Linked DNA regions of Homo sapiens. The protein of the gene in region 1 interacts with the protein of each later gene in a pairwise test. Each region holds a gene or a part of one and is shown on either strand. Other genes may lie near its edges.

What was found. Proteins that work in one complex are often made in the same cells at the same time.
Region 2: the proteins of PRDM16 (region 1) and GLMN interact in a two-hybrid assay, tested with the Homo sapiens proteins (one large-scale study listed by BioGRID).

The regions. Positions count from the first base shown.
Region 1 is NC_000001.11:3,429,203-3,432,702, forward strand, and holds part of PRDM16 (histone-lysine N-methyltransferase PRDM16), read left to right. Parts: intron 1-1,669; coding exon 1,670-1,906; intron 1,907-2,763; coding exon 2,764-2,938; intron 2,939-3,500. UniProt on the Homo sapiens protein: Binds DNA and functions as a transcriptional regulator. Displays histone methyltransferase activity and monomethylates 'Lys-9' of histone H3 (H3K9me1) in vitro.
Region 2 is NC_000001.11:92,246,988-92,250,487, reverse strand, and holds part of GLMN (glomulin), read left to right. Parts: intron 1-2,498; coding exon 2,499-2,610; intron 2,611-3,343; coding exon 3,344-3,426; intron 3,427-3,500.

The sequences.
Region 1 (3,500 bases):
GTCCACGGCTGTTGCTTCAGGCCCCCATTCTGTGGGGCTTGGTTTGGGCAGCTCTGGGAAACTGACTGTCCTCCCTGTTGGAGCCAAACCAGCCACTGGGCCCTATTCTGTGTCCGTGCCGGATGCTCCGCTCCCCAACACTAAAAAGCAAATACTCTGTGCATGGGGGGTGTGCAGCAGACATAAAGAGGGCAAAGTCCCTGCCCCCAGCTGGTGGGAAGCCCATGCAAACCCACGTGGGGCCACCAGATGAGATCTCACAGCACATGCCCATGTGATGAGCCTGGGCTCTCACCCTGCGCCATCTCATCCCGTCCTCAGAGTGGACAGGGAGGGGTATGTCCTCGTGTCATCGAGAGGGCACAGGCCCCAAAGACAGAACCCCACCCGAGGGCACCTCACCAACAACCAGGGTGAGAACCAGGACCCGGATCCCAGCAGCTCCGTGGCTGAGGAGATGGGTGTGTGTACAGGACGCTCTTGGCCCCCAACACAGGCGACCAGGACCGAGGAACTCTCCTCAAGCCCTGAAACCTGGTGAGGTTCTGTCCGTCCTGGAAGGCAGAAAGACAAGAGATAGACACGTGGCCCATCTGTGGAGAGCCAGGAAATTGTGGCCTCCCCAAGCCCAGTTCCCGTGCACACAGGCGAGTCCGAGACACGGAGGTCGGTCGCCGTGAGACGCTGTCACTTTCTTGCTTGGATGCCAAGAGCAGGACCCCTGCATCTCACCCACACCGTGGATACCTCCCAGGGCAGCGGGAGGCAGTGCCCCCGGGCGGAGTGAGGACAAGGAAGAGTGGCCCTGGGGCTCTGGGCATGGGCAGTCCAGAAACTGCGTGCCCTGCCCTTTGCTTGGGCCCCTCTACCAGTATGTCCAGCATGTGCCCGGGGGCCCTCAGCTCCCCTGGGGCCCAGCCCACCCAAGACACAGCTCTTGGTCGTGAACATGAAGATGAGCCAAACTCTAGTGGCTCTTCCTGAAAGAAATGAGAATGCCCAGCCACACCCATGCACGCTTTGTTCTTTTTTATTTAATACTGAGGAACCGGAGTGGAGGGGTCCTGCCGGGCTGCAGTGACCCTGAGGGAAGTCAGGAGAGCCCTGGGCTGCAGAAGAGTCCCCCCACAGGCTCCGAAGCAAGCTTGTCCTGGTGCATTCAGACTGCTCACAGCAGGCTTTGGGCCCTCACTCTCCAGATCCCAGAGAGCCCTCCAGGGCTCCCGGCTCTCGGGCCAGTGCCCACGTCCTCGAGTTGTCAGCCTGAATTCCTTCCCCCTGAAGTCTGCCCTGAGGGTGCCCCTCGTGCACTGCCCAACCCCCGTGCCAGTGCAGGTCCAGCTTCCCCACAGGACTGCCCACTGCTTCCACCCCAACACCGCCCCGGCCCTGGTGTCCTCCCGGCCATAGCAGCTTGCTGCTGGGCCTTGCCCTGCCCCCACCGCCCCGAGCGCTTGCCCTCCTCTCCCGGGATCGCCCCCAGGCCTCCGTGCCTCTCACTCTGCAGAGTCAGTGGCTGGGCCCAGGGACCCGCGGGAGCTCCCTCAGGAAGGGGGCTGAGTGTTGTCGGGGGAGGCAGTGGGGGCAGAGCGGAGTCACCAGCCTTTGGGGGTCCATGGGAAGGACAGAGACACCCAAACTCAGTCAATCTCCTCCTGCATCATTTCAGGGCGGACATGCAGATCGTGGACGGCAGTGCCCAGTGTCCAGGCCTAGCCAGTGAGAAGCAGGAGGACGTGGAGGAGGAGGACGACGATGACCTGGAGGAGGACGATGAGGACAGCCTGGCCGGGAAGTCGCAGGATGACACCGTGTCCCCCGCACCCGAGCCCCAGGCCGCCTACGAGGATGAGGAGGATGAGGAGCCAGCCGCCTCCCTGGCCGTGGGCTTTGACCACACCCGAAGGTGGGGGCAGCCGTGTGCTCCAGGATGGGGCAGGGAGGGAACGTGGGCGTCCATCACGAGGGGGACCTCCCTCTTCAGCCACTCGTGAGCCCATCCCTGGCTCAGCCCCTACTCCAGCACAGCCACCTCAGGGCCTCCACACACAGGCCAGGGCAAGGCTGGGCCAGGGGCAACGGGGTCAGGGGCCCTTAACCCCCCCACCCACCCCCAGGGGCCCTGGAGGCTGGAAGCAGAGTGTGGAGGGGAAGGCATTTCCCTGCACTGAGCAGACATGGAGGCCCCCGGCCCTGCAGCAGAGCTGCCTGTCAGCCTGGGACAGCGCGTGCAGCCACTAGAGGGCCGTGGGCACACGGGGGCCAAGCACCCACCATTCTGTGCCGGCCAGGGCCACTTCCCCATGTCCTCAGTGTTCGCCACCAATATCGGGCCTGGGCGACACTGCCAGCATTCCCAGATGCCCTTGGGGAGGCCCTTCGGAGGTGGCACTTCCTCTCCAGCCTGGATGCTGCCCCTGAGTCCTGGGAGAGGGAGCCCCGGGCCTCTCTGAGCTGCCTGGGGTCTTAGAGAATTGAAGCCTTCTTCTCCACCCTCCACTGGCAAGACCTGAGCCCCCTGCCTGCTGCCTGATGCGTGTGCACGCACTCACCCCCTCCCTGACCTCTGTCCGTCACTCTCCTGCATCCGTGTGCCTTCCCGTCCAGGCGTCTGTGTGTCCGTGTGTCTGTCTCCCTGTGCATGTGGCTGGCAGAGATGCAGCGGCGTGCATGCAGGCCCGGAGCTGGGCTTGCAGCATCAGAGAGGCGGCCAAGGCCAGGCTGCTGACAGCAGGCCTTCCCTCTCCCCGGTCATTGGTGCAGGTGTGCTGAGGACCACGAAGGCGGTCTGTTAGCTTTGGAGCCGATGCCGACTTTTGGGAAGGGGCTGGACCTCCGCAGAGCAGCTGAGGAAGCATTTGAAGTTAAAGATGTGCTTAATTCCACCTTAGATTCTGAGGCTTTAAAACATACACTGTGCAGGCAGGCTAAGAACCAGGTAGGTACCCGCCAGAGCCCCTCCCCCACCCCACCTGGCCTCCTCAGCCAGAGGACAGCCAGCACTCCTCTCCCGCCGTGGCCCTCCTAGGCCTGAGGAAGCTCTGGTCACGCAAACGCCCCCACGCTGCATCCTCCAGAGAGGCCCCAGCGACCACCGCCCTCCCGCAAGCTGGGGCGCAGCAGGGAGGGGCTGAGAGCCGATGACCCTGGCAGGACCCTCACGAGGGAGCTCACTCATGGACACGGGCAGCTCACCTTCCTGTGGTCCTCAGTGGGAAAGGTCTGTGAGCAGGTTTCTGGCCCGCCCAGCCGCCTTCGTCTCCCTCCCTCTCTGATCTGGGCCCCAGTGGCCTGCAGCCCGGGCTTTTCCCGGGGGAAGAGCTGTCCAGCCGGGCAGTCTCTGCTTCCCAGCTGGAGCAATGAGGTCAGCGAGGGTGCCAGGGTTTTGGCCCCAGGCGCTTCTCGGCTTCTCTCCTCAGGGTAGGTGGCCCCAGGGCCCTGCTCCCGCATTTCTCTCCAGTCTGTAGGGACTCAGGGTCTCATTCAGCACTCTACAGCCC
Region 2 (3,500 bases), about 89 Mb from region 1:
GCTGCATTATTTTGAAATACTAAAAACTTAGGATAAATTCCATATAATGGAATGCTTATGCACCAATTAAAATTAGAGCTACAACACAAATAACTCTCAAAAACATAAGATTGACAAAGAAAAAGGAAGCTGAAGCAGGTTATATACAGTATACCATTTATGTGCTTTTAAACATGAAAAATTATATTGTTTAAGTGATACATTAGGAATGCAAAACATTCAAGTTTTAGATAATGGCTACCTCTTGAATAAAGGGGATTTCAGCCATATCTAGTATTTATTTTTTAAAAGTAAATATGATAAAATGTTTCCTTTTGTCAAAGGTTTCCTTTTGTCAAAGCTAGGTGTTTTCCCTATACTCTTTATGTTCAAATGTGCTTTAGTGGGTAACAGAGAGTCATCAGTAACCTAGTCTTGAAAGCCATCAGTTGCAGTGGGTTCTGCCTATAAACCCAGAGGTGAATGCAAAGTAAAAAGAAAAAAAAAAAGTTGGGGGGCAGGGAATAAATGGTGAAGAAAAGGCTGGACGTAAAAAGGAATAAAAGCCTGTTATTTGCAGCAACGTGGATGGACCTACATGTCATTACATTGAAATATGCCAGGCCCAGAAAGACAGTATCACATATTCTCACATGTGTGAGCTAACAAACTTGATCTCGTGGATACAGAATATAGAATGATTGATTGATACCAGAGTGTGAGCATGGGAGGAGGAAATGTAGAGCAACTGGTGAATGGGTACAAAAAGAGTTAGATAAAAGACAAGCTGTATTGCTTGATAGCACATTACAGTGACTATAATTAGCAACAATATATTGTATATTTCAATGTAGCTAGGAGAGAGGACAGGAAATGTTACCAACCCATAGAAATGATGAATACTCAAGAGGATGGATACCCCAAATACTCTGACATTATTATACATTTTATACGTGTAACAAATACATGTACCCATAAATATGTAAAATATCATGTATCAGTAAAAGAAAAAGGCTGGATAGAGAGAGGTAAAAATAGGAGAAATGAGAGCAGTCAGTGCACATAAGAGTAATATGCTTGTTATACTGTGTGGCTACACTGGTTAAGGAAATTCCTGCTGCATATAACCCAAATTTGCCATTAGAGGTTAAGAAAACTTTCCACTTAACAATTTAAAAATTATACAACTAAAACATCCATTATTTAAAAATCAACATAAAGAAGCAAAAAAAAAAAAAAAAGAATAGTAATCAAAATTACACCGTTGTTGATATACTGTATTCCCTTCTAGGTTTTGGGTTAATACGTCTGTACATTTTTTCTTTTTTAAAAAGAAAATGAGATCATACTAAAAGAATCACACTGTTTTATAACCTTTTTTCCCATTCACCAATATGTACTGAAAAACAGTATTTTAATGGCTGTATAGTTTTTCCATTATGTTAATATGTCATAATTTACTATGAATCTCCTGTTGAGTTATTTTAATTCTAATGTTTCACTAAACATTTTTAAAAAACATCTGCAGTAGAATCATAACATACATCTTTATTTCCCCAAGATAAGTTGATAGATGCTAAGTGAAAAGGTATGCATATTTTTGAGGGTTTTAGATCCTCTCTAGTATTCTACTTTTCCTATTAGTATAGGATAAATAAGACAAGATGACTGAAATGAAAAGGATAGGTGTGAGACATTAATATTATCAATTATTCAGCATAGACATGTGTAGATTTTATTTGGAATGCTGCAAGTAACATGTACTACTTGGGTCAAAATAAGCTCATTACAAAATAGGTTATCAAGTAGTTCATTATTCTAGTTAAGAATAAATTGGGTCCCTACGTTTCCCTTTTTGACCTAAGACATTTTCCTTTGTAAAGAGTACTTGGAAACTGGAAGTACCAATGGATTTTCTTTTCTCTATTTTTTAAAATAAAGACTTCATGAGTCCTCTCCATTAGTACTGTAAGAGAAAATGCTCTTGGAATAAACTCTAAGATACATGACAAAATAAGCTGCCCTCAACAGATAAAATCTTCACCTACTTTGGTCACCAGGGAGGTTCAAATTAGCCGGGTATTAGAAAAGTTTCCATCAGTAGGAAAGGGAAAGCATCCTCTAGAACTAGATCCGTGGTGTGGATATCAATTGAAAGGCCATACTTGGGATGAAGGCATAAATAAGGTAGAGTCATTGTGGAGATGGCTCATAGAGGAAGAGACGTCTGTGAATTTATCCTCAAATAATTTTCTCATAAATAAAACTTAACAAGTTAATAGATCTCAAAACCTGGAGCTATCCAAATGGTGCAGTGATAAGCGTAGTGCCCCAAGTACATTTTTCTTTTAATTGGTATTCACATAACTAGCTATAGTAATAATTATTAAATAGTGAAGTCCATTGTGAAAAGCAAGGGCCATGTTTCATTTATTTTTGTTTTTTGAGCTTTTATCGCGTTTAATAGTAGGCAATCAATCATTGTTGAACTAAATAACTCATTCTTTCATTCTTAACAGACTGGATTATGGACAGAACTTGGAAATATTGAGAATAATTTCTTAAAGCCACTTCATATAGGACTTAATATGTCAAAAGCACATTATGAAGCAGAAATTAAAAATAGCCAAGGTTGGTAATGTGCAATTTTGTTTTCAATTAGGTCTAAAAAGTAGTCTAATTTTGGAACTGTCATATTCAAATTTAAGAACTTTTTAAAAATCTTGTACTTTAGAGACCATAACAGCTAAGCCATTTTATTTATAGTTAAAATTCTTAGCAGATCTATAAGCTAATTTACCTAAAATCGGGTTAATGAAGACTTAAACCAAATATTACATTGTAAAGCCTCAAGGTCTGATTAAGAATCTGTATTACAGCTATTTCCGTTTGGGTACCATTCCTTTGGTATTGCTGGGTCCACTCTCCATCTCACTCTCAAGTAAATCCATACAAATTATGAAAAGAATCTTAGATCCAGAATTTTTTTAAGTCAATAATTCTATAATAATCGTGTGATCTCTTCCGTATATCTGTGGTGGTGCTTTTATAGGCATTACCGGAAATTTTGTTTTTAGTATAATGGCTATAATTCTGATTATATACTGAAGAAAACAGTTTCATGAATCCTATACATGCCAAAATAATGCTATTTATCTAAAGAAGCATTAATTTACATGTTGCAGAATTTTGATATTTCATTCTGTTTGCTTATAGCTTAAGTATACCCTGAGCTGTTAAACAATGGACTTAATAATTTATACAAATAACTGACATGTTTTAAGTTAGTGAATGAAAGTAGCTTATACCTTTGTTATTGAAATCTGAGAGTTAAGTGTCACACATGATTTTTCTTCTCTTACAGAGGCCCAGAAATCTAAAGATCTTTGTTCTATAACTGTAAGTGGAGAAGAGATCCCTAATATGCCTCCTGAAATGCAGCTTAAGGTGATCTGAAATTTTCTTTTCTTTCCTTTTTCTTCTTTAGAAACGGGGTCTTGCTATCTTGCCCAAGCTGGAGT